Homo sapiens: one gene and its partners. The protein of the gene in region 4 purifies or fractionates together with the protein of the main gene of each other region. This does not show direct contact. Each region holds a gene or a part of one and is shown on either strand. Other genes may lie near its edges.

The links.
Region 1: the proteins of DHX38 (region 4) and SLU7 fractionate together in Homo sapiens (co-fractionation; one large-scale study listed by BioGRID). This does not show direct contact.
Region 2: the proteins of DHX38 (region 4) and NKTR purify together in Homo sapiens (co-immunoprecipitation; one large-scale study listed by IntAct). This does not show direct contact.
Region 3: the proteins of DHX38 (region 4) and PITHD1 fractionate together in Homo sapiens (co-fractionation; one large-scale study listed by BioGRID). This does not show direct contact.
Region 5: the proteins of DHX38 (region 4) and BUD13 purify together in Homo sapiens (co-immunoprecipitation; one large-scale study listed by IntAct). This does not show direct contact.
Region 6: the proteins of DHX38 (region 4) and WDR11 fractionate together in Homo sapiens (co-fractionation; one large-scale study listed by BioGRID). This does not show direct contact.
Region 7: the proteins of DHX38 (region 4) and PPP4R3B purify together in Homo sapiens (co-immunoprecipitation; 2 studies listed by BioGRID and IntAct, with this or other methods). This does not show direct contact.

The regions. Positions count from the first base shown.
Region 1 is NC_000005.10:160,412,490-160,416,523, reverse strand, and holds part of SLU7 (pre-mRNA-splicing factor SLU7), read left to right. Parts: intron 1-1,213; coding exon of another isoform or gene 1,214-1,229; coding exon 1,230-1,399; intron 1,400-2,051; coding exon 2,052-2,205; intron 2,206-2,544; coding exon 2,545-2,625; intron 2,626-2,903; coding exon 2,904-3,068; intron 3,069-4,004; coding exon 4,005-4,034. UniProt on the Homo sapiens protein: Required for pre-mRNA splicing as component of the spliceosome. Participates in the second catalytic step of pre-mRNA splicing, when the free hydroxyl group of exon I attacks the 3'-splice site to generate spliced mRNA and the excised lariat intron.
Region 2 is NC_000003.12:42,603,503-42,607,536, forward strand, and holds part of NKTR (NK-tumor recognition protein), read left to right. Parts: intron 1-4,034. UniProt on the Homo sapiens protein: PPIase that catalyzes the cis-trans isomerization of proline imidic peptide bonds in oligopeptides and may therefore assist protein folding. Component of a putative tumor-recognition complex involved in the function of NK cells.
Region 3 is NC_000001.11:23,784,531-23,788,564, reverse strand, and holds the end of PITHD1 (PITH domain-containing protein 1), read right to left. Parts: intron 2,891-4,034; coding exon 2,786-2,890; intron 2,251-2,785; coding exon 2,142-2,250; intron 1,291-2,141; coding exon 1,189-1,290; 3' UTR 333-1,188; downstream 1-332. UniProt on the Homo sapiens protein: Promotes megakaryocyte differentiation by up-regulating RUNX1 expression.
Region 4 is NC_000016.10:72,096,527-72,100,560, reverse strand, and holds part of DHX38 (pre-mRNA-splicing factor ATP-dependent RNA helicase PRP16), read right to left. Parts: intron 3,740-4,034; coding exon 3,552-3,739; intron 2,885-3,551; coding exon 2,780-2,884; intron 1,917-2,779; coding exon 1,769-1,916; intron 1,635-1,768; coding exon 1,516-1,634; intron 1,358-1,515; coding exon 1,281-1,357; intron 830-1,280; coding exon 674-829; intron 126-673; coding exon 1-125. UniProt on the Homo sapiens protein: Probable ATP-binding RNA helicase. Involved in pre-mRNA splicing as component of the spliceosome.
Region 5 is NC_000011.10:116,758,954-116,762,987, forward strand, and holds part of BUD13 (BUD13 homolog), read right to left. Parts: coding exon 3,600-4,034; intron 2,000-3,599; coding exon 1,782-1,999; intron 227-1,781; coding exon 121-226; intron 1-120. UniProt on the Homo sapiens protein: Involved in pre-mRNA splicing as component of the activated spliceosome. As a component of the minor spliceosome, involved in the splicing of U12-type introns in pre-mRNAs.
Region 6 is NC_000010.11:120,857,734-120,861,767, reverse strand, and holds part of WDR11 (WD repeat-containing protein 11), read right to left. Parts: intron 3,126-4,034; coding exon 2,972-3,125; intron 1,660-2,971; coding exon 1,486-1,659; intron 1-1,485. UniProt on the Homo sapiens protein: Involved in the Hedgehog (Hh) signaling pathway, is essential for normal ciliogenesis.
Region 7 is NC_000002.12:55,593,220-55,597,253, forward strand, and holds part of PPP4R3B (serine/threonine-protein phosphatase 4 regulatory subunit 3B), read right to left. Parts: intron 1-4,034. UniProt on the Homo sapiens protein: Regulatory subunit of serine/threonine-protein phosphatase 4 (PP4). May regulate the activity of PPP4C at centrosomal microtubule organizing centers.

The DNA of each region.
Region 1 (4,034 bases), on a different chromosome or scaffold from region 4:
TGAGATTGAATTAAGACGTATTGAGTTTAAATGCCTCTGGCCTCTAAGTGGAGATGTCAAGTAAGCAATTGGATATATGTATCTGAAGCTCAGATAAAAAGTCTTGAATAGAAAAATACGTTGTTCCTTTATTATTTTTTATTTTATAGAAAAATAAGTTGGAGAGCCAGCAGTGTTGTATTGTGACCATTGAAGCCTTGGAAGTAAATGAGCTTATCCATTAGTGGGAGTTTAGAGTGGCTTAAAAGGTGCTGACTGAGCCTTGAGGAATCCAACATTAAATAACTGGGCAAAATTTGATGACAAGAGAGGTACAAGAAAAACCAAGAGGGCCAGGCACAGTGGCTCACGCCTGTAATCCCAGCACTTTGGGAGGCCAAGGTGGGCAGATGGCCTGGGGTCAGGAGTTTGAGAGCAGCCTGGCCAGTGTGGTGAAATCCTGTCACTACAAAAAATACGAAAAAATTAGCCGGGCATGGTGGCGGGCACCTGTAATCGAGCTACTCGGGAGACTGAGGCAGGAGAATCGCTTGAACCTGGGAGGCGGAGGTTGCAGTGAGCTGAGATCATGCCACTGCACTCCAGCCTGGGCAACAGAGCGAGACTCTGTCTCTAAAAAAAAAAGAAAAAGAAAAACCAAGAGAATGTAGTGTCAGGGAAGTCAAGACATAATATATAAAAAGGGAAGGAACAGAGCTGAAAAATGTCCATTGGATTTAGCACAATGGTCCTTGATGACTTAATGATGTAACTCTTTTCTTTAGAATGGTAGGGAATGGAGGGCTAAGTTAGAGTGAGTGAGGATGAAAATAGAAGGTGAGGAAATGGAGGCAGTGAATATAGATAACTCTTGAGATATTCATTCTTGAAGGGGTACAGAGATAGGACCCTCTTTTCTCTCATTAAGAGTTACTGTGTTAGAAAAGTTTGAGACATACACAGAAAGAGGGATTAAGGATGGATATGAGAAAAGAGTCCTGTGAAATTTTAAATACACGTGTGTGTCTCTCTCCATTTGTAAATTGGAGTTGAGAGAGAAACAGTGCTAACAGTATGTAGAGACCTTGAGGAGGGGGAAGAGACCCTTCCTTACACATAATATAGGAGAAAAAAAAACATATGAAACAGTATATATTATTAGGATGTATTTTTGGTAGTTTGAGTGAATTCATGAAGGCCTACTTTTTACTGTAAGTTTCACTTCTTTTCCTAGAGGAGGCCAGATAACCATGTCAGCCACAGTTGTAGATGCAGTTAATGCTGCACCCCTATCGGGGTCCAAAGAAATGAGTTTGGAAGAACCAAAGAAGATGACCAGAGAGGACTGGAGAAAGAAGAAGGAGCTAGAAGAACAGCGAAAATTGGGCAATGCTCCTGCAGAAGTTGATGAAGAAGGAAAGTAAGTACTTAATTTTTTGTATGATCCATTCATTCAGAATTCAAATTCATGTCTACTTAGTTTATTAATTTTTCATCCTTTGAGAGGAACCTCTCTTCATTTATGTCATTTTTGTTTTTTATTTTATCAAACTCATATGCATATGGTTTAATAATGAAATTATGTTGAAGGGCTTATAATGAATAGCAACAGTCCTTTTTTACCGTTCCCACCCCTGGCCTGCTCTACAGAAGTGACTGCTATGAAATCTTTCTATTTTGAGTTTTTCTGGTTGTTACCGTCACATCTCTAGATAATAATACCTACACAATTATTTTAATTAATTGACTATAGACATTATTTGAACCAAAACTTCTTGTGATAGAAGATTTAGATTACTAACACACATCTCTATTTTCCTTCCTCTCTTGTCCCCCTTCAGTTATATCACTATTCTTAGTTTCTTAGTTGGAAATATTTTCACTCTAAAATAAATTACTTCTTTATTTTTAATTATTCTTTATTATAGTATAGAGATAGCAACCTTGTTCTCTTCCCCCTACCACTGCAATATTTCTGTTCTTAGATTTTGTATAAGCTACCTTTGTAATTGTAATACTGATTATTTTCCAATTTTATCCTTAAATTTTTTTTTTTTTTACTTTAATTACAGAGACATCAACCCCCATATTCCTCAGTATATTTCTTCAGTGCCATGGTATATTGATCCTTCAAAAAGACCTACTTTAAAACACCAGAGACCACAACCAGAAAAACAAAAGCAGTTCAGCTCATCTGGAGAATGGTACAAGAGGGGTGTAAAAGAGGTATGTAGGCAACCTGTATACATCTTCATGGATATGGAGAGTTTAAGAACTTAATGTAAGAATTTTTAATGCAATACTATTTAAAGTAGAAACAGATAATAAAACCCTTTATCTGGTATTGAAATTCACAGTGCATTACTATTTTATCTTTGTGTTTCTTATATAAATTTTACACTCCTGAACTCTTTAAAGTTTCACATTTATAAATGTGTGGAGACTCTAACTTATTTTCCTTTTAACAAAGAAATCATTTCCCTAGACAAAATAGTAATGAGAGTCAAAGTTATTTCTAACTTACGTGGTTAAGACATTTTTGTTTTTCTTTATATATATTTATAGAATTCCATAATTACTAAGTACCGCAAAGGAGCATGTGAAAATTGTGGGGCCATGACACACAAAAAGAAAGACTGCTTTGAGGTAAGTTCACCTTTGAAAATTTTGAAAACCGTTGTCAGAGTCTTTCTTTTTTCTTTGTCAGAGAGCTAACTTCTCTTTTTCTGAAATCACCTATATTTAGGTACAAGTTAAATAAAAATTAGTTTCAGTGGAATTGGTTCAACACCAACAAAATTTTCTACTGTAAGACTAACTGTAAATTGAATAGATCGTAAAGTGCCCACTCTGTAAAAGTTGTATGAAGTTTTCCTTTGGGCCATAAAAACTTAGGAAAAGATTAAATCTTACTCTGTTTTTAGAGACCTAGGCGAGTTGGAGCCAAATTTACAGGTACTAATATAGCTCCAGATGAACATGTCCAGCCTCAACTGATGTTTGACTATGATGGGAAGAGGGATCGGTGGAATGGCTACAATCCAGAAGAACACATGAAAATTGTTGAAGAGTATGCCAAAGTTGATTTGGTGAGCAAAATTCCCTGCTTTCCTGGGGTTTTTAAAGAATCGTCCTTTTGCTGTATCTCTAGCAGCTCTACTTTTCAAATCTTGAAGCACTTTAAAAATGGTAGCATTTTTATAATAGTAGTACTACTGTATAGGCTACCTTTATAATTGTAATATTGAGTAAAGGAAATAGTGTGCTAGCCATACTTGCCAGCAGTTTCTTCTTATTTGATTCTTATATTGGTCCTTTACTCCCTGACTTAGGTAGCAAAAGATATTGGAAGCATGAAGACAGATTAGTGTCCAAAGCTTTTGGTTTTGTGAGGTTAGAAATGTATGGCCCCAAGCTATAGCTTGCCCATGAACCTATTTTATAGTTGCCTCCCATAGCATTTGGGAGTAGTAGAAAGGGAATGGATAATTTGTTTCAGAAAATTTTATTTTATTTTAACCCAACTTCAGTTTTTACTGTTATGATTTGACCTATTCACCCTTATTCCTTTGAAGTCATAGTCACACTGCCTTTTTTTTTTAATTAGAGGTATCATTTTAAAATTATAAGATTTCATATAAAAATCTGGATTTCATCTTTTCTTGAATATTGTAATATATGGTAACCCCACGCCTGCCTGGTAAGAGTCAGTCATCTAGAGTTCTGTGGCAACTGCTTGTTTTTGTCAGGGCTTGCTCCCTGCAATTTACTACTGATGCCATTTGGCTCAGTTTACATTAATGCCTGGTTCAAACACTGTGTAACTCCTGCTCTTTATAGAGTAATAGGTCTAGGGCTACAAGGAATCCCAAAGAGATAGGTTTGTTCAGTGACCTTTTCTGAAATAAATTAATTTAAAGTTATTCATTTTAAATATATAAAAATTTAGGTGGTGACTTGAATGTTGTAAGTAAAATTTAAATGTTTACTTTTTCTTTCTTTCTTTCTTTTTTTTTTTTTTAAAGGCAAAACGAACATTGAAAGCCCAGAAACTC
Region 2 (4,034 bases), on a different chromosome or scaffold from region 4:
GACAAATGTTCAATGAACCTCATTCCTCAACATCCAAGGCAATTCATTGTGATAGATGTGTAGATGTGATTAGCACTCTTGAGAACGCCGAATCATATAAAACAAGGAAATGCAATGCTTACATTGTTCTAGGTTTAATCATTTGATAGTTGGAAATTTCATATGGTTCAGTCTTGTGAAATAACTAGCACTTTTTGAGTATATTAACTAAATAGTGGATTTTACACAACTTTTTTTTTTTTTTTTTTTTTGAGGCGAAGTCTCACTTTTTCACCCAGGCTGGAGTGCAGTGGTGCCATCTCGGCTCAGTGCAACCTCCGCCTCCCAGGTTCAAGCGATTCTCCTGCCTCAGCCTCCCTAGTAGCTGGGATTACAGGCATGTGCCACCACCCCTGGCTAATTTTTTTGTATTTTTATTAGAGACAGGGTTTCATCATGTTGGCCAGGCTGGTCTGAACTCCTGACCTCAAGTGATCCGCCCACCTCGGCCTCCGAAAGTGCTAGAATTACAGGTGTGAGCCACGGTGCCTAGCCTGTGGTTTTTATTAAAGAAATTGGTGCATTTTATCTAAGTTGTCAAGTTTATGTGCTTAGAGTTGTTTGTCACAGCCTCTTTTAATATCTGTGGGGTCTGTAGTGGTGTCTCTTTTCATTCCTGATATTGATAATTCTTCCTTTTGTCTTTTTCCTTTGTCAGTCTGACGAGAGGTTTATTCATTATACATTTTCAGAGAACCAGATTTTGATCTGATTGAATTTTGTTTCTATTTTTGTTTTCAATTTCATTGTTCTCTTTCTTTCTAATGCTTGCTTCAATTTTTATTTTGTTCTTTTTCTAGTTTCTTAATGTTGAAGCATAGATTGTTGATTTGATACCTTTTTTTTTTGAGACAGTCTCAAATGACTTTTAATTTAATTCCATTATGGCTAGAGAACACACATGATTTCCGTTCTTTGTGCACTTGAATGTACATTCTGCACTTGAATGTACATTTTTGTGTAGTGTGTTCTATAAATGTCAAATCCAGTTGGCTATTAGTGTTGGTCAATTCTTTTATATCTTTGCTGATTTTCTACTTGTTTATTGATTACCAGGAGAAGAGTATTGAAGTCTGCAACTATAACAACTGTAATTGTGGATTTATCTATTTCTCTCCTTTTTTTTTTTTTTTTTTTTTTTTTTTTTTTTTTTTTTTGAGACTGAGTCTTGCTCTGTCGCCCAGGCTGGAATGCTGGAGTGCAGTGGCATGATCTTGGCTCACCACACCCTCTGCCTTCCTGGTTCAAGTGATTCTCGTGCCTCTGCCTCCCCAGTAGCTGGGACTACAGGTGTGAGCTACCATGCCTGGCTAATTTTTTGTATTTTTAGTAGAGACAGGGTTTCTTCATGATGCCCAGGCTGGTCTTGAACTCCTGGGCCCAAGCAATCCACCTGCCTCGGCCTCTCGAAGTGCTGGGATTACAGGCATGAGCCATCATGCCCGGCCGTATTTCTCTTTTAAGTTCTCTTAGTTTTTGCATCATTCATTTTGAGGCTCTTAGGTGGGTACATACATATTTAGGATTGTTGTCTTCTTAGTGAACTCTTTTATTATTATGTAATGACACCTTATATTCCTAGTAACTTTCCTGGCTCTGAAGTTTCCTTTGCCTCAGATATGAATATAGTTACTTCCGTTTTATTAGTGTTTACATGGTATATCATTTTCAATCCTTTTACTTTTAACCTTTCTGTATAATATTTAAAGTGGATTTCTTCTGGATAGCAAATAGATGGGTCTTGTCCCACTCTGACAATGTCTTTTAGTCAGTATGTTTAACTGTATACATTTAATATAATTAGTTATGTTTAGATTTGCTTTACTGCTTAAGATTCATAAAAACAGACTGGAAAATGTGTTTTTAGCAAACATTGTAAAGTATTTAGAAGTGATACCAAGAAATTAGTCTTAAGAGGCGACAAAGGATTCAGGCAAATGTTTGAGTACTACTTGTGTCCTTGGTCAAGCCGTTTAACAACCTCTTTGTGAAATGGAACTACTATACAGTTTTGTTCTTAATTTGGTTCCAAAGCTAACAGGACAGGAAAATTTGCTTATATTCAAAATTAAACTAAACTTTAGACTCACATTCAAAATAGCTCATACTTCGAGTGAGGTATATGGGATCTGGTTTGTTCTGAGGGAATAGGAGAAATGCATCTCCGCTCTCAAGGTCACCCTGGGTCATAAGCTCATGAGTAGAGTGACTAGATGCAATGGCCTGAAATTTAAATGACTTGCACTGTATATGCTCATTAACCTGTTATATTATTAACCTAATAATAGGACTCCAGTGTAATAGTGCTTACATAACAAGATTGTTGAGAAGAGTAATTAAATAATGCCATCTTATAGATTGTATTAGAGTAACATGAACTTACTCTAATAGGGTGGATTAAGGAGCACAATTTTAATTAGGCACACTACTGTTTGGTATAACAATCGGATAAGCAGGTGGGGAAGAGTGGCGTGGGAGAGAACAGTTGGATAGCTCTGCTGCTCTGAGTCATTCTTGTTTGTCCTAACTGATTTGAAGGCCACTGTGCTAATGACAGTGCTGGGAATGGAGGCAGAAATGAGGTTTGGTCAGTTGTAGGGTTTCCTCAATGATGTTTAGATTTTATAACGTCCTCTTATAGCTAAAATTTATTATTGATACTCCTAAAGAAAAAAATATTTTTACTGCAACTGGAAACTCCCTTGTCCCCCCCAGTTCCCATTTTTATATGGAAATAGTTATTTTTATATGTGATTTTCGATAATGCAGTGTTTCTTAAAATTCTATCACTGTTCTTGTAGAGCAGTCTGTATTTGTTAAGTATATATAGCACAGTATCTGATTTTTTTTTTAAGTTGCTTTAAGTATTGCATGTGCAGGAGTATGGACACTAAGTCAAGTTAAGGGGCTTTCATATTTAGGTATTGTGCAGGTAGACCTTTGATTTTGGTCCCTTTTGTTCCCAGAGATTGTATCTTAAAGTCCGAGAGACAGTGCTGTAAAGTGAAATCCTGAATTCTTGCTTTCACTCCCTATGTATGTATACTTGTACAAAGAATTGAAGCCTGATTCTTAATTCAGCAATGTTTATTTTATTAAACACCAATTAATCTTTATGTAATCACTTTTTAACATTTTTTAATATTTTGTCTTTACTTTTATTTTAAATTTTTATTTTTTTCTTGGCCAGGCACAGTGGCTCATGCTTGTAATCCCAGCACTTTGGGAGGCCAAGGCAGGAGGATTGCTTGAGCATAGGAGTTAGAAACCTACCAGCCTGGGCAACATAGTGAGACACTATCCCTAAAAAAAAAAATTTCGTTTGGCTTTTTTTTTAGAGACAGAGTATCACTGCGTTGCTCATGCTGGAGTACTGTGGCTATTCACAGGCATGATCATAGTGTGGTGTAGCCTCAAATTCCTGGTCTCAAATGATCCTCCCACCTCAGCCTTCTGATACGTAATCACTTTTGGTGACTGTAGTTTACCCTCATATGAAGATACCTTGTATTAGTTAGGCTAAATGATAAGATTGGTTCTAACATAAAGGTTAAATAACAGTACTTACAACAATATAAAAGTTTTGCTTTTCTGTCACACAGCACTCAGAATCAGCAGATCAGGGCTGTCCATGTGAGGGATCCAGGCTCTTTTTGTGTCGATACTGTGTTACTTTTGACATGGGGTGGGTGCGTGCGGCTCTTAACAGAAAGATTCAAGTTTAATAGATACAGAAGAATTGATGGAATCAGAAGAATCATCATTTTGCAACCCCCATGGTAATAACTGGTTCAGAAAGTAGTCATCAGTGGCCAAACCATAGGTGAAAAGTTGTGCTGTGTGCAAAGTATCCAACAGATTATTTATTTAAAATGGAGGAAAATTCCTTTACAACTAAGATGTGGCTAATATCTCAGTTATAAAGGTACTTTAATGGGTCCGACTGACATGCTTTCTAATGGGGTGCAAAAAAAAAAAGATGGAGACTGTTTTAG
Region 3 (4,034 bases), on a different chromosome or scaffold from region 4:
GGGTTCATGCCATTCTCCTGCCTCAGCCTCCTGAGTAGCTGGGACTACAGGCTCCCGCCACCGCACCCGGCTAATTTTTTGTATTTTTGGTAGAGACGGTTTCACCGTGGTCTCGATCTCCTGACCTCGTGATCCGCCCACCTCGGCCTCCCAAAGTGCTGGGATTACAGGCGTGAGCCACCGCGCCCGGCTCCAGTCTTGATTTAATTGTGGCACTTCCTATAATCTACCTAGTCCAAAACAACAACAAAAAATTTCAAAGTTCAGTACAGTTCCCCATGAAATGAAAGTTGCATCAGTGGCTATCAAGAACTCAAAAGAAAATACAAACATTAAGTCTGGCAAGGATTTATTAGGAAGCTTATTAGTCACAGTGAATAAAAGCCATGAAAAGAAGAACTCAAATCTCCAAATTCTGGCATCGGACTTACAACACTAGTTAGAAGCTAATAAACATTAAGGAATTTCCAAGGGGAATCTTAACTAAGTCTCAATCTTACTGACCAGATTACCCACACACATAGAAATGATCCCCATGCTCTCCCCAGACTGCTTAGCTAGGCAGTGGAAAAGACCTTCTCCCCAAGCTTAAGCTATCACGCATCAGCAGGAGACTCCTGTCCTTCTAGCTATAACCACAGGACACATGTGCGTGACAGACAACTCCAAGCTGGGCAACTTGACAAGAATGCTGAACAATGAGAGGGGAAAGGAGCAAGCAGGAACAAGTGTTTTAGTTGGAGACCCTCCTGATGGCTACTACTAACACAATCCGGAGGCATCAGAAAGTTTCCTATAGCCCACAAATAGTTTCCTTTAAAAAAACAAAAACAAAAACAAAAAAACAAGTCACACAACAATCTTGCCACAAAGCAACATGACACTTGGAATCACATGGCCACATTAACTGGAAAAGCAAGTGTTACCCATGACTGCCAGATGCCACCCAGCCCAAGACCCAATTTCCACAGCGCCCTAGAGAACCACGATGGTCCCCTGGCACCTACACAACCCTCCCAGTGGTGTCGTATCTTCCGTAGGCCAGGTTTCTGCAGCAAGCCCCAAAGACAAAGCTTGGCAGAGGCTGTGGCAGCCAACTCTCTCTGGAGCCTCATCCCTTTGTCCTTCCCAACAGGTAGTCGTACATCTTCACTGACACAGCGCCTCTATGGGAGCCTTGGCCAGCCCTTAGGAAATAAAGTGTGTCTGTGGGGTAACCTGATGGACCCTATGGTCTGCTGGGTTGGCAGATGCTTCGTAATTGCAGATGGTCACCTCGTGTCGGCGAAGCTGCAAGAAAATTGAGGCTGGGTCAGCCAGCCATTAAAAGAACTGTCCTTTCCCACACCACACACATTGCGGTAGTCCTTATTCAGGTTCATTTCTAGGAGTCATCATTTAATATCTCCTTATTTTAATACTTAGATGTCATCATCTAATATCTCCCAATTTTGATACTTTTTAACTCCAGAAAGCTGCAAAGATCATTATCATTGATTCACCCTGTAACTTTGAAGATTCAGTCTCCCTACTATAATGGGGGTACCATGAGAATAGGAACTTGTCTATGGTATTATCTTATCCCTGGTTCATGAATAGAAAAGATTATCAAAAATACTCAATGAAAGCATTTGAAAGTAGAAAACTGTGAATTAATATAAATGACAATTTCAGGCTGGGCAAGGTGGCTCACACCTGTAATCCCAACATTTTGGGAGGCTGAGATGGGCAGATCACCTGAGGTCAGGAGTTCGAGACCAGCCTGGCCAACATGGTGAAACCCTGTCTCTACTAAAAATACAAAAAAATTAGCCAGGCGTGGGAGTGGGCACCTGTAATCCCAGCTACTTGGGGGGCTGAGGCAGGAGAATCACTTGAACCTGGGAGGCGGAGGTCGCAGTGAGCTGAGATATATATATATATATTATATATATTATTTATATAAAAATAACAGTTTCAACCCCCTTAAAAATACCTGTAGTTTCTCAAATGAGACGAAAAGTTTATACTGATAAAACCAAGAAAAATAATAAACTGGGAGTAATTATGACACTTGCTCTTTTCCCTTCCCTGGAAGCTCCCATCACCACAGTGTGCAGATATGTAGACATGAGGGGAAAACCTTTCCAACCCCATCTTACCTCAGTCCACTCTCCTCTCAGGCCAATATAAAAGACCTTTGTCGTATCTGCTCCGAAGTTTTTTGAAATATGAATTGAGAGATGATAGACATTTGAAAAACGAGAAATTCTAGAGGATGACAGGAATAGGGAAAGAAGGTATGAATTATAGTTCAATGAGTATCTCACCACCATGTGAAACAACAATTCAGCTCCAGCTTGTAAAAGCCAGGCAAAGTCAGAGCTCCTGAGTTCTTCCTTCTCCTTTGGACAGGCAATTAATTCAATGACCATTTACTGAGCACCTGCCAGATCCTGTCCAAGGCAGTAGGGATAAACACTGCTCCTGCCCTCAAGGAACAGGAATGAGAAATGCTGCATAACCCAGCAGGGATTCTAAAGCACATTTAGTGTTAACCTAAACTAATGGGAGACACATCTTTCCTAAAACCACCCTAGGAGTTCATTCAGATCTGCCAATTGCTTGCAAGTTAACAAGTCTGTGGCTTGCACTGAATCTCTGCCAAAAACTGACCAAGCCAAAGATCAAGTCTCCTCCACTGTTTTAACTCATTTCCAATGCTAAGAGAGCAGGAGACTGGCCAAAAATAAATGGCAAGCCCTATAAGAAGCCATAGAGAATGGAAGACAGGCCCAGTGCTTACTTTGTAGCATACTCTAATTCTCCTGTAAGATCCCGGTTCAGACTAAAGGTCTGATCTGGCTCCCTTTCTGTATCATCAAAGGACATCTGTGGAATATTCTTGTACCTGAGAAAGGAAAGGAAAGAAAAGTCAAGAAATGTGCATTATCACGTTTCAGGTTTTCAAAATTTTCTACTGACTGCTTAAATGGCTTTGGTTCTATCAATAGGAGACTGAATTTGGGGGTCATATTTTAGAAATGACATTTTATACAAGTATCTCCAAATATCTTTTTTTTTTTTTTTTTTGAGACAGAGTCTCACTGTGTCACCCAGGCTGGAGTGCAATGGTACAATCTCAGCTCACTGCAACCTCCACCTCCCAGGTTCAAGTGACTCTCATGCCTCAGCCTCCTGAGTAGCTGGGACTACAGGCGTACGCCACCATGCCCGGCAAATTTTGGTACTTTTAGTAAAGACAGGGTTTCACCATGTTGGCAATGCTGGTCTCTAACTCCCAACCTCAGGTGATCCGCCTACGTCGGTCTCCGAAAGTGCTGGAATTACAGGCATGAGCCACCGCGTCTAGCCTACAAATATCTTTAATCCAACAAAAAAAGAGCTGAGATCTGCAACATAACCCCATGGCATCTTTGAGTGGGTTAATATCACATGAGAAGCAATACACAAAGAGACGGCTCAAACTAGGTCACATGCAGCAAATGCATGGAGAAAATAAACAACTCAGCACATTCAGACCAAACTGAGGATGTTATTAAATAAAACAGCTTACTCATGGGAAAAATACATACTTTGGCAGAAACATATTACACACAGTTAAGAGATAAAAGATCAGGTAACCCAATGCTCAAGCATTTTTTTGTGTCCAAAAACCACGCCATACACTCAGTCACCTTACAGTTCTTAAAACATTTATAACATGAGGATTTCCATTTTGAAAGATCACAAAAGACTGCAATCTCACATCCAAACCGCTAGAGAGGGTGCAATGAGCCAAGATCACGCCACTGTACTCCAGCCTGGGTGACAGAGAGACTCTGTCTCAGAATAAATAAAAAGTAAACTGCTAGAGAAGAAAATGTTTTTCAAAGAGTAATCTAAAAAGCAGCTGTCTCTATAACCCACAAATTCCCAAAGACTAAGCCACATGTCCCCACCAATTCCAGGGTGTTTTATTGACACACCCACACAGAAGAGGCCTCGATATTAGCTGGGGCAAAATGCATGTAATTTAAGAAAGCCGCCGGGCG
Region 4 (4,034 bases):
GGCACCAGATTGTGCACCATCAGATGCACCTTGGCCGCGTTGTCCTCTTCAAAGTCCTCATCCACCTCCAGCCGATGGACCACCCCACTGGTGAGCATGCGGTTTGTCTCCCAGCGCTCGTTATCCTGTGAGGACACAATGGGAGCCACACTCAAATTGCCACCCCAAAGGTCGTCCTGAAAGGTTATGAGGTAAGTCCACACATCAAGTCCTGACAGAAGGCCACTGGTAGCTGCAAAGATGTCACAGGCCTCTACCCACAGCTCCAAAGACAGAAGAGGTGCTGATCCCAAATCACCTGCAGGAGTTTGTTCCAAGCAGCAGCACCTTTCATCTAAATCAGAACCTCTAGAGGGACACACAAATGGTAAGTGTCCCTAGCCCACATCAGAGACACAAAGAACACAGACCACAGAGGCAGGTCCCAATGCACCTGTTCCCATCAACAGTACTTCCCCTCAAGGAAGTACTGCAAAAGAGAGAAGTACGAGCCGGGGCTTTCCTTAAGCTACTAAAAGGCTCATCACCCACTCCTCTTCCACCTCCAGAGGATCTGGGCTTCTCGGCAATCAGGGGACAAGCTGTGCTGCCCTCACTTGGGGATAACCTGCTGCTTCCCCACGTGCTCTACCTCCAGCTCTGAATCTGCTCCAACTTCTGCAGGCAGCCTCACCTCATTGATCTGTCTCCGCTGAGCTGAAATGCGCTTCTGCTTCTGTTTATGCAGGTGCTGCTCCCGCCTCCTCACGTAGTCCTCGGAGGAGTAGGCCAGCGGGTTGTGGAACTCGTCATAGCCCTCGTCCATCATGTACCAATCCCGATCGGCTTGCTGCAGGGCAGGAGGCAAAGCAAGGGAGTGAGGGACAGATCAAGTTTATGCACGAGACATGGCCAACAGAAGAAGGGACGCTTGGTAGGAAGTCACTACTGCAGTGGAGCTACCCTTGTGAGGGGTGCAGGAGAGGCCTCCCTGCAGACACATGCCATCTGGAGGAGAACCACAGTGGGCAACTACACAGGACTGGAGGGCAGCCCATCACGATAGCACTTCTTAGATTTACCACATGGTGGCACCAACACATAACAGAACAGTTAGGTCAGCCTACTGCAGTGAGTGACAGGGTTCACCGTGCCGTCTATGCCTCTGCAAAGAGACTCCAGGGCATTGGGTCTGAACAGGGCTCAGGTGTACCCTCATCAAAGCCCAGTCCTGCTAGAGGGTCACCCATCTACAGACGGCCACCAGCCCCGATCAGCCCCTCAGAGGTATAAAACTTTACCCTCTGGTCATCTTCCCACTGCTGCCGCTCCTCCTCCGTGTCAAATGAAATTCCTTCTTCGCCCTCCTCACGTCTTCCTGGAGGAGCACAGGAAGCAGGTCAGTCCATGCCCTGGCCTGTCCCCAGCGGCCCCAGACAGATCTGCAGGGCCATGCAGCTCCAGAAGGGCAGCCCCTGCTCATCCTCGCTAGGGCAAGCAAGCCTGCTCTTCTGCCTGCTGCCCCACAGGCCTCACCTCGGCCCCTGGACAGACGCGGGGTGGACCCCAAGTGTCTTCTGTCATCGGCCCACTCGTTATATTTGTAGGAGGGAGTTGGCAGAGGCGTGTCATCCGAGTACTTGCCCCTCACAGACCTGGGAACAGCAGCACCAGCATCACAAAACTGTCACTGAGCTAAGCCACGTCCTCCTGGCCACCATCTGCTCTCCCTGCCGAGGCTCCTTACCGCCCACCCAGCGAAACTGGGCTGCTCTGCCCAGAACATCACCTGTCTCGATCTCGAGTGGACAGCCGATGGCTCCGCTCAGAATCCCGATAGGAAGGCGTCGGGGAGGGCGATTCCCACTGTGAGCGCCTTGAGGAGCCATAGCCACTGTCCTCTTCCTCCCAGGTAGACCTTGAAGGGGTGGCTGCATCTGGGCCACAAAAGACACATCCACAGGAAACATCTCACTTAACCATGACATGGTCTAGAACCAGTTGCCAAAAGTCAATTCCCCAAATTTACTCCTTTTACTATTTCTAAACCTTGCATGTATCTATAACGGTTAAGATCGGTTTTGACAGTTTTTAAAGATATCTCAATTTTTAATGGTCCAGGATGTATTTTTCCTTTTTTTCTTTTTTTGAGACAAAGTCTTGCTCTGTCGCCCAGGCTGGAGTACAGTGGTGTGATCTTGGCTCACTGCAACCTCTGCCTCCCGGGTACAAGTGATTCTCCTGCCTCAGCCTACCGAATAGCTGGGATTATAGGTACCCACCACCACCCCAGGCTAATTTTTGTATTTTTAGTAGGGATGGGGTTTCACCATGTTGGCCAGGCTGGTCTCGAACTCCTGACCTCAAGTAATCTGCCTGCCTCAGCCTCCCAAAGTACTGGGATTACAGGTATGAGCCACTGCACCTAGCCAATGGTCCAGTTTGCATTCTGTGTTTATGACAACATTTTAAGGGATATTTACTTTATCTCTACAAACACACCCTTCTTGGATATAAGTAGTTCTTTTTAATAAACACTTCTTCTACCTCCAGCTCCCTATTCTTTCCTACCATTTGGAAAACTGGCCATTCAGCAAACCAGCCTCTCACCTTACAGGAACCATATCCACCCCAAGTGCAGAGCTGTGCCCACCTGACTCAGAACCAACTATCCCAAGATGTTCATGGTAGAATCGGGAATTCTGACTCAATGCCTCAGCAATCTCACTGAAGACGAGAGTCACTCACTCTGCCTTTTATACACTTGAATCCTCACAAGCCACCAAAACAGTGAGTCTACCTTTAGGTCGATGTCGTGGGCTCTCGGGTTCATTTCTTCTGCTGCTACGCTCTGACCCTCCATCTCGCTCTGATCTGCTGCTGTGCCTACTTCTATCCCGCTCATCTATGAAGAGTCACACGAAGCTTAAAAACATGCATCCCATCCTAAGGTATACACATCTTCACCCTAGAGAAAGGACAGGCTGCCCACTCACTCACAGGTGCAACCTGCACTGCTCGAATGTGATCCGTGGACTCCTGAAACTCACCTATCCCCATTCTCCCAAGGGGGAAAAATAGTTACTGCCTAGAAAATTTCAAACCCACAGTAACAGTTATTTTCCAGCAAGAATTCAAAAAATACTAGTGCGAGTTTACAGTGAATCATTTTTTTTAATAGTTACAATTCTATCAGCTATAAAACTTAATACTGAGCAAGGACAGCATTGGATTTTTTTGTCTAGCTTTGTTCCATAGCACTGTCCTTTCTCTATCACCAATACTATTAGAAATGCTGGTCTCTTATACATATTTACCCATTATCTCCTTTATCATCAATTTTCATAATAAAACGAAGACCACACACTCAAGGAGAGCAGCTATGTTACAGGCAACAGCTCTTTTCTTAAACTAGTATTCCCAATCCCAGCAGGGTCAAAACCACTCAGGCGGACATCATGCAAATAGGACTCCCTAACAAATGGGTGTTGCAAAAACTCCTGCAACAAGAAAAAGGCTGACACATTTATTCGAATGCTAATGGACAATAGGAACTGTGCTGGACAGTTTACCTCTGTCCCTCTTGCGGTCATAGTCTCGATCCCGCGATTTCTCCTTCTTCCAATCCTTTTCTTCTTTGGACGAGGCATAGACACCATGTTCCCGCCGCTCCCGCTCTCTCTGCCGACTGCGTTCCCAAAACTCTTCGCTCACACCACCCGGATGGGATGGAGTCTCTACCCGAGCAGACCGATAATGTCTGAAACAGGGAGAGCAACTGGTAAAGGCCCCTCCATAGGAGAAAAACTCTGCCCTAAAACCTTTGGCTGTCCAAACAAGTGATCTGTCCTTTTCCACTTTCTCTCCCTGGGACGCAGGCTCACATATGGCAACAACCCAAGGCATTTCTAACCTCTACCATCTCGTCTTTATTCACCTTTGTTTTTCCCCACAAATTCCTACCTACCTTCAGTATTACAGAATCATAATAAAATCATAAAGCTCTAAATCTCCAACAGGAAAACTGAGAGATAAACATGAGCTGTTATTTTCCA
Region 5 (4,034 bases), on a different chromosome or scaffold from region 4:
TAAAACCAGAGCTGAAATTTGATAGCAATTAAAAGTTCAAAATATCAGGTACAATAAGCTAAATTAAAAAAAAAAAAACAGTATGAGCCTAAATTGGTCTCTGCACTTTCATATTTTTACCTTCAAATGCCATGGTTTCTTGATCCTGTTCCTTGAGCTCCTGCTGTTCTCGCTGTATGTCAGTTAACACCAACCCAGTTTTAGCCCCAGAATACATGTGTGCAGCCTATGCAACGGAAAAGGGAGCATCCAACATTAATGAGATGATGTGACAGTAGGCTCCATGGGTACACAGTTAGTTGCATTTGTGTCTAATGACCAGCAATAATTAAACCTAAAACTCTAGCTTTATATTCTCAATAATTACCATAGGATTCAAAAACTATAAAAGAAAACCATCATCAAAACCATCAAGTTTAAGAATAAGCAGAAACACTAACAATATATTAAATGGAGGGCTACGCATTTGTATTTCTGACTTTTCAGTATATAAACTGCACACATGAAGACTATCTCAGGTCATCTGATCAGAAACCAGTATAAAGCACTAAGCCTTCCATTAGAGACCCATACTGATAAAATATTCCATTTACAGTACAAACTCAAGCAAACCTAAGATCCTTAAATTGTGGATATATTTCATGGTAATAACAGAAGATCTAACAAATGAAAACTTTTTGCTAATTTCCACTTAGCATCAAGATAGCAAATCAGCCCACGAATGAAGCACACAGTATATCTTGATATCCTTCAGCAACGAAATTGGAATAATATTAAGTTGTCCATGAACTAAATGGATATATAAAATGCCAAGAGGTCCAGCTGAAACAGAGACCTCTTTTTTCCCTAAAAAAGAAGAATCTCACTTCCTGGGTAAAGAACAGGCTGGTCTACCCTGCCAGGACCAGTCTTCTCAGAGTCTTCTACAGACAAGATTTACCTGATAAGTCTGCACTGGGGAGAAAAATGCACATCACAGGCTCTATCATTCTGTTTCTTAACCACTTACAAATAAGATTCCTTTACTACTACCAATGTTCTTTACAATATAATTACTCAAGGTTCATATGGATTTTGGGGTTTTTTGGCTAATTCATCAAGCCTTATCATGAATTTAAAACAAACCATTGACTTCTCAGACAACATGATTTCTAAAAGTGGTTTCATATTTTAAGTGCCTCTCCTTAAGCTCTGGATACAGAGACCTATAGTCCAATTTATACTAGTAAATCACTAACACTAGATGCTTACTTTGTCCCAGACACTGTGCTAAGAGTTTTACTTACACTGGCTTAATTATCATAACAACCTTACACAGTAGGTACTACTATTATCCACAATTTACAGATAAAGAAACTGAGGTTTAGAGATATTAAGCATCTTGCCCAAATCTCACAGACAGTAAGTGGCAGAAGGAGAATTTCTGTATGTGATCCGTTTGACACAATGCTTGTGCTCCAAACTTCACTCTGCAAATTACAGTCCTCGGTTTATTCCTAAGAAAATAGGAAGTTTTTCTAGACCTGTTAAAATGAGATTGTAGAATTAAGAGGCTATAAACGCAGAAGCTACTTGGGAAATCTGGTATCTGTAAGTCCATCTGGGATGGGTTATAGCCAGTTTGCCTTCAGAAGGAAAGACCTCCAAAGGTCCTTTTAACTAAGATTTACTACACTTCTCAGAGCTACATCCTTCTTCTTGGCTTGATTCTCTGGGACATATATAAAGCTGAGAGAGAAGAGTCACACGAAAAGAAGGACATGGCTCCTGAAAATCCTGACCTTCTTTCCAGGAGGCTGACTCCTTCGAGGCGGGGACAGGTCAGAATCAGAAGATTTGGTCCTCTGTCTCCTCCTTGGTGGAGAGAGGTCAGAATCAGAGCTCCGGTGTCTAGGTCTATTCCGTGGAGGTGACAGATCTGAATCAGAATCCTGGTGCCCTGGACTTTGTTTATGCCGTGGAGAAGAAAGGTCTGAATCAGTTGCTTTCTGGCAGTCACCTGGATAGGAGCAAAGAATCTGTGTGACTCTGATGTCCTCTAGGTGAAGAACTTACATGAAATCTCCTATGGCTGGGAGAAGAACCTAGAAATTAAAGAATTCCTTACATTATTATTATTTTTTTTTTTTTGAGACAGTCTCAGGCTGGAGTGCAGTGGCATGATCTCAGCTCACTGCAACCTCCGCCTCCTGGGTTCAAGCAATTATTGTGCCTCAGCCTCCCAAGTAGCTGGAATTACAGGTGTGTGCCACCACGCCCAGCTAATTTTTGTGTTTTTAGTAGAGATGGGGTTTCGCTATGTTGGCCAGGCTGGTCTTGAACTCCTGACCTGAGGTGATCTGCCCACCTCGGCCTCCAAAGTGCTGGGATTATAGGCTTGAGCCACCATGCCTGGCCAAAGAGTTCTTTAATCCCCTTGGAAGAATCTAAAAAGATAACTTACCAAGCTAATGTACAATATTTATTTAGTTTTCCTATGAAGAATTATCATTAACCTAAACATAAGTATGGATGGCACAGGAGAAGAGCAAAGTCAGAAACAACTTTTAAGACCAACAGGTAGAATATGGCATTCTATTCCCAAGTGACCACTGACTGTAACTGGTGTGTAAAATCTCCACACACTCCTCTATGTCAGTAACCCCACCCATGGAAAGACAAAATAACTTGTAGTCAGCTCTCCATAGTGTGGCAAAAGTCAGAAATACCTGGAATATAGTCTGATATCCTTGGACTAAAGGATAACAAAGTACTTTAATTTTAAAATTAAAATAGTTCCTAGGAACAAAAGAGGGAGTAAAAAATTTCACTGCACAGGCCTAAGTTCTAGCGACTGTATAAGCATCACAAGTCACCTCCCAAAGGGCATTCTGCAATATGTATCGACAGTCTTTAAAACGCCCACATCTTCTGACCCAGTACATCAACTTCTCAGCTTTCTAGGAAACTTATATAGAAGTAGTTGAATTTCGAGGAAATCTATCTAGAAGTAGATAAGGAAATAATCCAAAATGGGGACAACAGTTTATGTACAAGGATGTTCATTATAGAATTACAGAAGAAAAAACTTAGAAATAACCAAAAACATTCATTATTAGGAAAATGGTTAAATTTGTAATTAAACACTATTAAAAATTATACTAACATAAAGATGTTTTATGGCCTGAGGAAGACTACGTTAAGAAAGGACAGCAGGCAAGATTGCACATGCAATACAAATGTTCTACACAGCCAGAGCTCAACTATATAAAAAATGCAAACCAAAAAAGACTAAGATGACCCTGGCCACAACACTAACAATAATTGCCTCTGAATGACAGAATTTTGTGTCACATTTTATCTTTATATACTTCTGTACATTCCAAAGCTTCTGCAACAAATAAATTGTACTTTTATATGGGGTGGAGCGAGCACATAAAAAGACATATGAAAACCTTCCTCCCTGCCACCATAATTGTTCAACTCTCCCAAACCCAGCCTCTCACTTTTCAAAACTTTCCCAAAGAAATTCCATTCTTATACCTAATAAATCAACTAAACGGCCAAAAGAAAGCTCCCAGGGATACATACATCCCTCTCATGGACAGTCATATGCTCACCTTTGGAATCAAGCTGCTTCTTGTCTCCAAAATGGGATTTTGCTTGCTTTTTTCGTGGAGGAGAGATGTCAGGGTCATACTCATATTTGCTGTTCTTTGGGAATGACAAATGGGAGGCTCCTGACTCCTTCCAATGTGGAGAAGTCTTGCTAGAGGCTCTTTCTGGGGCTTTACCACTTTTGGTTCTGGGCAGGGAATAAGTGACATTAGGAGCCAAATCAGGGGAGTCATGACGGGCCCTTCTGAGTTGCTGTGTGTCTGAAGAGCCAAGAGTCCTCCTAGATGTGTCAGGGGAGTTGTTATGGACCCTTCTGGGGGAAGAGATATCTGAGGAACCATGACGGGCTCGCCTAGGAGGAGAGGGATCTGGTGAATCATGACGGACTCTCCTAGGAGATGCACCTGAAGAATTATGCTGAGGCCTCCTTGGGGGAG
Region 6 (4,034 bases), on a different chromosome or scaffold from region 4:
TGGAAGACATGAGCAGAAAAACCTTACTACCCTGGGTCCCAGCCCTTAGCAAGGCTGCTCTAAACACAGGGAAAAAGGATGCATTCAAGAGTTATGACAACCCTAGCACATTCAATATGAGTAAATCAAAGATGTTAGGTCAACTGACACTCTGGAACACACAATGCTTTCATCAACCAAATTACAGAGATGTAAAGAGCTGATGCAATCAAGTTAGCTGAAAGCCTTGTTGCCTTTTCAGGTTCCAGAACTCATCCTTCAAGGTCCCCTTTGCTTCCTTCTTTTGTGATGCCCTCCTTCCCTGACTCTGCCAACTGGGCCAGCCCTCCTAGGTGTTTCCCCAGCACTGCACCTATGTGAGTAAGTAAACTGGTGACCAAGTGAGTGTATGTATGCACACGTCCATATACAAACATTTACATACATAAAAGCCTAAGCACCCTGTAGTGTATTTACACAGCCACATTTCCCATGTTATTATAATTTCAATTTTGTCTGCCTTTCTCTTCCTCCTTTAACACGTGCAGACACACACACACCCCTCAATAAAAGTTGATGGGTAAAACAATTTTGAGTCATTCAAATCCAGGAAAAACATTCCTTACCATAGCTAATTCCCTTACCTCCTTCACATTTCTGATCATTATCAAAGTGAAGCCTACTTTGACCACTTTATCTCATACAACTTGCATGCCCTCATCCCCCATTCTTCTGCATCCCCTTTATCCTGCCTTTATATCACCTGTCACCTCTTACTACACTAGAATTTATTAATTCATTGTGGTCACAGTTTATGATATGACTTCTTCTCACTAGAATGCAAACTCTGTGAAGGCTCCTGCCTTTTGGGTTCTGAGACATCTTGGTTCCCAGAAGAGTAGCAATAGCTCAAGAAATATCTGTTGGATGATTAAATAGTTTCTAAACAATTTAGCCACAAAAATACCTAAAGCACATCTCATTTTTAGATCATTAGCTCAGGAAAACATTAAAAGCATATTAGCAAAAACTATCTCTGCAAGAAAAAACTTGCTTAGGCTTATTTCTTCTTTACATGCATCTGTTTATGGCACTCAAAATGAATGGCGTGAATTAGGACAATTTATTAAAAAGCAAGAACTTAACTTGGCCACAGACTGAATGAAACCCTTGATTCAAGTTATTTAAATGTTCTTAGAAGAACTAATTAAGTCTGGAGTGTCAAAGTAACTCTCTGTCCCTGGCTAGTCTAATACTATTCACAAATTCAACACAGTGAAGGTGTAGCTTGCTGATTTAATTTTTTATCATATTTGCAATGATATGAACTTATGATTGAGTATGTGTATTAGGAGCTGCAGATATATGGACTAGACATGCTTCTCCACTTCGCTCAGTCATTTTAACATTATAGATGTATAATGTGTGTGTATATCTCATGCACATAGCATTACTATATTATAAATATCTCACTTAACTCATTTTCCACAAGCAACTGTTACTCACAAGTTAAATGTGAGGGATCAAAAGGGTCAAAAGAAAAAGAAAGAATGTTATCTGCATAGCTCTTCTTCCATAGTTTGGTGCCAGTGTCGGCATTCCAGAGCACAATGTAATTTGGCGGGTGGATAGCAAGCAGTAAATCGCGGGAAGCATCTTGATTCCACAACCACTGAACATCTGGAAAGACCCGATAAAGAAAGGCAAAATTCAGAAACCACACTCTCCAAAGTCCTTGGCTAACTTGTCCTTGATATTTAGTTTTTAAAATATAATCTTTAAAAACTTAACCACCAGCCCCAAATGTGACGTGTGTGTGTGTGTGTGTGTGTGTATCAATATTCCAGAGAAAAAACTAATTCTATATAAAAATAAGTTGTCTGGTTAAACTCTCAAGGTAAAAATTTTGAAGTAATCTGAAATATTACTTCAAAGAAAATAAAAGGCAATTTGCCCTAATCATTACTTAAAACTATAAAATCAATATGAAACTCTCTTAGCCACAACCAAGATGTCAGACTTTCCTAATGTTTCTGTGGAATTACTTAATGGAACTTTACAGTTCTTCATGGTTTTTCAAAAAATAAACAGAATATGCAAAGATCTAGTTCAGTACCTAGTACACAGTAAGTATTTAATAAATATTTTTTAAATAGTCATTTAAAAAATTCATTCAGTCAAGAGAGCCACTGGAGGACTTAAGTCTAAAGAATACTGTACTGGGCAGGGCGCAGTGGTTCACGCCTGTAATCCCAGCACTTTGGGAGGACGAGGCAGGTGGATCACGAAGTCAGGAGATCGAGACCATCCTGGCTAACATGGTAAAACCCCGTCTCTACTAAAAATACAAAAAATTAGCTGGGTGTGGTGGTGTGTGCCTGTGGTCCCAGCTACTCGGGAGGCTGAGGCAGGAGAATGGCGTGAACCCAGGAGGCAGAGTTTGCAGTGAGCCGAGATAGCGCCACTGTACTCCAGCCTGGGCAACAGAGCGACACTCCATCTCAAAAAAAAAAAAAGAAAAAAAAAAAGAATACCGTACTGGTTTTAGGTCAGTAACATGAAACGAACAAACAAGCAATCTATATGAAAATGAGAATAAAATTTTGTTCATCTCTGATAATGAACAAATTACTTAATGTAGAGTAAGCACTGATGGCTAGTTCCTAACAGCAGTGGCCAATTTTCCTTATATTGTAGCTTAGATTACAAGATTGTACCACTTACTTTTTCTTATCATGCTTGAATGAGGCTGATATTGCAATTAATGAGTTTTACCAAAGCACAAATCAGTTGAGATTTGAAGAAATATGCCTAGAAGTGTATTAGTAAGGACAGAAAGCCAGATTTAGATCAGCAGAATAGGCAAAACACAATCAAGAGCTAACTTGGAATTGATAAAATTAAATGAATGGGGGAAAACCCCCAAAACCAAAAAACCACTCCAAGAGTAAGTGTATCAATATACACACTTAGCTGAGCAGACTTTCCTCACCCTGGATAGGCTTGGCATGCTCTTGGATCTCACACTGAGCTACTCCTGCTGCTACATCCCAGACGATGATCTTCCCATTGACATCAGCAGAAGCTAACCGTAAGCAATATGGTGAGCCAATGTTATGGTGATAGTTTTCCCTGGCCCATTTAACCTGTATCAAGAAGAAATCAGATCAAGTAAATACTTGCGCTGGATGAAACAGAACATAATTTTCACAAAACATCAACCAGAACCCATACTACATTTATATTACATAAACATTTAGCAAGAATAAACAGAAAACTGGTTTTCATTTTGAAGGCAGCATTTGTGTTACTTTGGTAGATATCTTTAACTGCAGTTACAAAATTGTTTTCTTTGACACATCACAAAGATCCTGTGATGAAAAATGATTCACAGCCTTAATATTTTGGGAAATTTAGGTTAAAACCCCAGGATGCCTTGAAAATCAGTTTTCCTAAGATCTAATTTATGACAAAATACCTAAAATCATATTTAGCAGAATGTTTTTCTGTATTCTAGTCTCCTAACTAAAAGAAGACAACTTAGAAACACAAAAACCTTGCAGAGGGAAAGTCAGGAGAAGGCAAAGTCAAACAAAAAACTCTAGCTGTCTCTCTCTTTCACAAAACATTAAGTTTTTCTCTAAAAAAAAAAAAATGCTTCATGCCTATAGCAACATGATTAACAATAGAATTTTTAAAATAAAAAACACATGAACTCCAGGGCAAATCTGATTAAATTCTTGAACAATGAATACTGACAGAATAAGGGAAAAATTTCATAGTCCTCACTAGGAGTCAGGCCTTCCCTGGTCACTACCACCCCTCTCTTCTCAGTATCCTGCTTATTTTCTTCAAAGCATTTACTACTACACAATTTGTACTTATTTTATTTACATTCTTTTTGCCTATTCATGAGTCCATCAACTGTAAGTTCCATAGGGCACACCATGTGGTCTTTGTTTGCATTTCTATTCTCAGACTTAGTACAGTGTCCAAGGTCTGTTTAATAAGTAGATTTAAATACCACAAATCTATAAATACATATAAATGTATAT
Region 7 (4,034 bases), on a different chromosome or scaffold from region 4:
GGGGATTTTGATCTGCAATTAGCTAGAACATTTGGAGTCACTAAAGTCTTATGTCCCTATCATGCTTAAGATATTGTCAACATGTATTAGCACACATACTAGGAGCCACTGACTATGCTAAGTACTCTCATATAATTTCTCAGTTAATTAACCTAATTTAAGCTAGGATTTATGATAAGGACCTTCGTACTACCTCACTTCGGCCCAGTTACATAAAATTCTTACATATTCACTTGCCTTCTACAACTCACACAGCAGCAAGTTAATGCGCATTTAAGAAACCACAGGTAAGTGTACTAGATACCCAGATAGGTATCTAGAAACACCTACTACCTAACCAAAAATTTCTACATGGAAATCTCAGAGTGAGACTTTAGGAAATAAGTGCTTAGAGGCCACTGTAGGGCCAGGTGTGGTGGTTCACATCTGTAATCCCAACACTTTGGAAGGCTGGGCACTAGGATTGCTTGAGGCCAGGTAAGAACAGTTTAGGCAACATAGCAAAACCCCACCTCTACAAAAAATAAAATAAAATAGAGACCACTGGCCACAATCTTATTTCTTTCCTTTTCACACATAGTTGAAAACACAATTCATACCCAAAGGAAAAAAAAGCATTATATTAAAAAGACACCTGCACTTGTATATTGATCGCAGCACTATTCATGATAGCAAAGTCATGGAACCCACCTAAGTGTCTACCAACAGATGATCAGACAAAGAAAATGGGGTGTATATATACACTGTGGAATACAAATGAAATGTTAAAAAATAATGAAATCATGTCTTTTGTAGCAACATGAATGGAGCTGGAGGCCATTATCCTAAGTGAACTCAGAGGCAGAAAATCATATATCGCATGTTCTCACTTACAAGTGGGTACACAAGGACATTAAGATGGAAATAACAGACACTGGGAACTCCAAAAAGGGGTAGGATGGGAGAGGACTGAAGGTTTAAAAATTATCTACTGGGCACTGTGTTCAATATCACGGTGATGGGTACACTAGAAGCCCAATCTCCACCATTACTCATGCAATACCCATGTAACAAATAAGCCTATGTGCCCTCTGAATCTAAAATAAAAAAAAAAAAAAAAAAATTCAACATCATTGCTGGCACATAAGAGATAATTAAGTAGTAAATGTTATGTAAATAACAGACAGTTCACAGAATCTGGCTATTTCATGAAATGCATCTCATGAAGCAGAAATGAGTAAATCTTTTAGAAAAATAAAAAGCTGCACTTGATTTACGTAATTATAGCCTTCACAAATAAACCTATTATAAAATACATAAAATGACAAAGTTTTACAAATATTTATAGTTCATATAATTTATTTTCTGAATATAAAAAAGTATTTACGATTTACTAGTATGAATTTGGAAACCCTTCTGAAGACAAAAACAGTCATTTGAAAGCTACATATGAGCTTCTGTTCCTGGTCCTCTTTTTATCAACTACAGACTGTGACTCTGTCCAATCTCCTAAGATTATTAAATGTTTTTCTGTCAACAAGTGAAATAGCACCCTGAATTGTATACTACAGTTTAAAAATACACAGGTCCTATATATTATAAAAAGAACCTGATATGTACATCTAACCTCCCCCACACTCATTATTGGTGAATAACAAAAAATTGGTAGGTGAATAAATGACCTGAAAGAAAAGTAAATCCTATGCAAAAAATTAAAGTAAACAATAATAGGTGACTACTGGTGGGAAACGTCGCAAAATGAAGTCGATTAGCTAGGCACTAAGTCAGAGATAGAATCTCAATTATTTGTATCAGGACCCTTTTAAACTTTTTTTTTTTTTTTTTTCAGACAGTCTCGCTCTGTCACCCTGGCTGGAGTACAGTGGCACAATCTCAGCTCACTGCAACCTCCGCCTCTCGGTTCAAGCAATTCTCCCACTTCAGCTTCCTGAGTAGCTGGGATTACAGGCACGTGCCACTGTGCCTGGCTAATTTTTGTATTTTTAGTAGAGATGGAGTTTCGCCATGTTGGTCAGGCTGGTCTCAAACTCCTGACCACAAGTGATCCTCCTGGCCTTGGCCTCCCAAAGTGCTGGGATTACAGGCATGAGCCACCACACCCAGCCTAAACTCTTAAGAATTATGCAGAGGCTGGGTACAGTGGCTCATATCTATAATCTCAGCACTTTGGGAGGGTGAGGAGCATCACTTGAGGCCAGGAGTTTGAGACCAGCCTGGGCAACACAGTGAGATCCTGTCTCTATATAAAAAATAAAATAAATTTTTAAAAATTACAATTAAAACCAAGACTCGTGAAAATATTTATGAATTCATTTTAAAATAAGTCATTTTATGTTTATGTAAATATTTTTTAAGAGAAACAGCTATATGATCCAAAATTTAAACTTTTATAAAAAAGAGTAGCCCCTTTTACATTTTTGCAAATCTCAATACCTGGCTTAACAAATGACAACCAGATACTCATTTATCTTTTCTGGCATTCAGTGTGTTGCAATATGTTCTTTAAGCAAAAGTACATGAAAAAAAAAAAAAAAACACAGCCTCACACTGACATCAAACTAGAAAAAGGAAAACCTCATAAATGCCTGTAAGAGGGGCTCAGGGACTTCCAGAGGTCCACAAACCACACTCTGAGATCCACAATACTAAGTATATAGTAGCTGCTCAATAAACTTAGTGAATGATATGGAAATAACAAAAGCAGTTATGCAGAAAGCTGAGTATAGGCTACTGTTACAAGTAAGACAAGTACTTAAAAAGCATGCTTACTATACTGTTAGGGTGTAAAGGATTAACATGATAAATATAGTATAAAACTCCTATTTCACAACTCAAGGAGACAGAATAAAATCACCTTCATATAGCAAATAGCCACATACTCGTATACACCCCAATAATAACAGTATCTCTCAAAATGGAAGAAAACATACTTTTAACCCTTTACCCATTGAGAAAAAAAAAGTACAGCTTGCTGCAAGGACTCATTTAATTTTACATAAACACGCTCTTTGAGGCCGAAGCAAATCTGACTTTCAAGGTGAAAATAAAATATAAAAACTGTTCTTGGAGTTATTTCTAAATAGAACTAACATCAGAATTGTTTGAATCATCAGATTCGTCTATTTCGAAAAAAAAAATCAGATTCAACAAACGAATCCTCGGGCAACAACTGTTCGAGAATGACAATACCATGTGCAGGACTGCTATGTTTTCTACGATTTGACATTTTCAGTGATTAACAATTACTATAGTTTGTAAATGAAAATATCACTATTAAAACCAGAATGCTATAAATAGAATGATGTCTTCTGTTTCCAAAGTCAATATGCCACAGCAATGCAAAAATAATAATAAAAGCTAGGTATTTTGTGGCAAAGTTATCTCAAGGTAAACACTGCAGCCAAGCACTACTGGCGAGTATTCACAGGACAGACAGGAAAAGGGTTAAATATAGCTGCATTGGCCAGGTGCAGTGGCTCACGCCTGTAATCCCAGCACTTTGGGAGGCCAAGGCGGGCGGATCACCTGAGGTCAGGAGTTTGAGACCAGCCTGGCCAACATGGTGAAACCCTGTTTCTACTAAAAATACAAAAAATTAGTCGAGTGTGGTGGCGTGTGCCTGTAATCCCAGCTACTGGGGAGGCTGAGGCAGGAGAATCGCTTGAACCCAGAAGGTGGAGGTTGCAATGAGCCGAAATCACACCATTGCACTCCAGCTTGGGCAACAAGAGTGAAACTCCGTCTCAAAATAATAATAATAAAAAATAGCTGCATCATCGATATATATAATAGGCAAATTCATAAAGAGTAGAATAGTGGTTACTAAGAGCTGGAAGGAGGGAATATGGGGAGTTACTGTTCAATGGGTTCAGAGTTTCTGTTTGGGATGATGAAAAAGTTCTGGAAATGGATAGTGGTAACTGCTGCATAACACTGCAAATATACTTAATGCCAATGAATTGTACACTTAAAAATTGTTGAAACTGGCCGGGCACAGTGACTCATGCCTGTAATCCAAGCACTTTGGGAGGCCG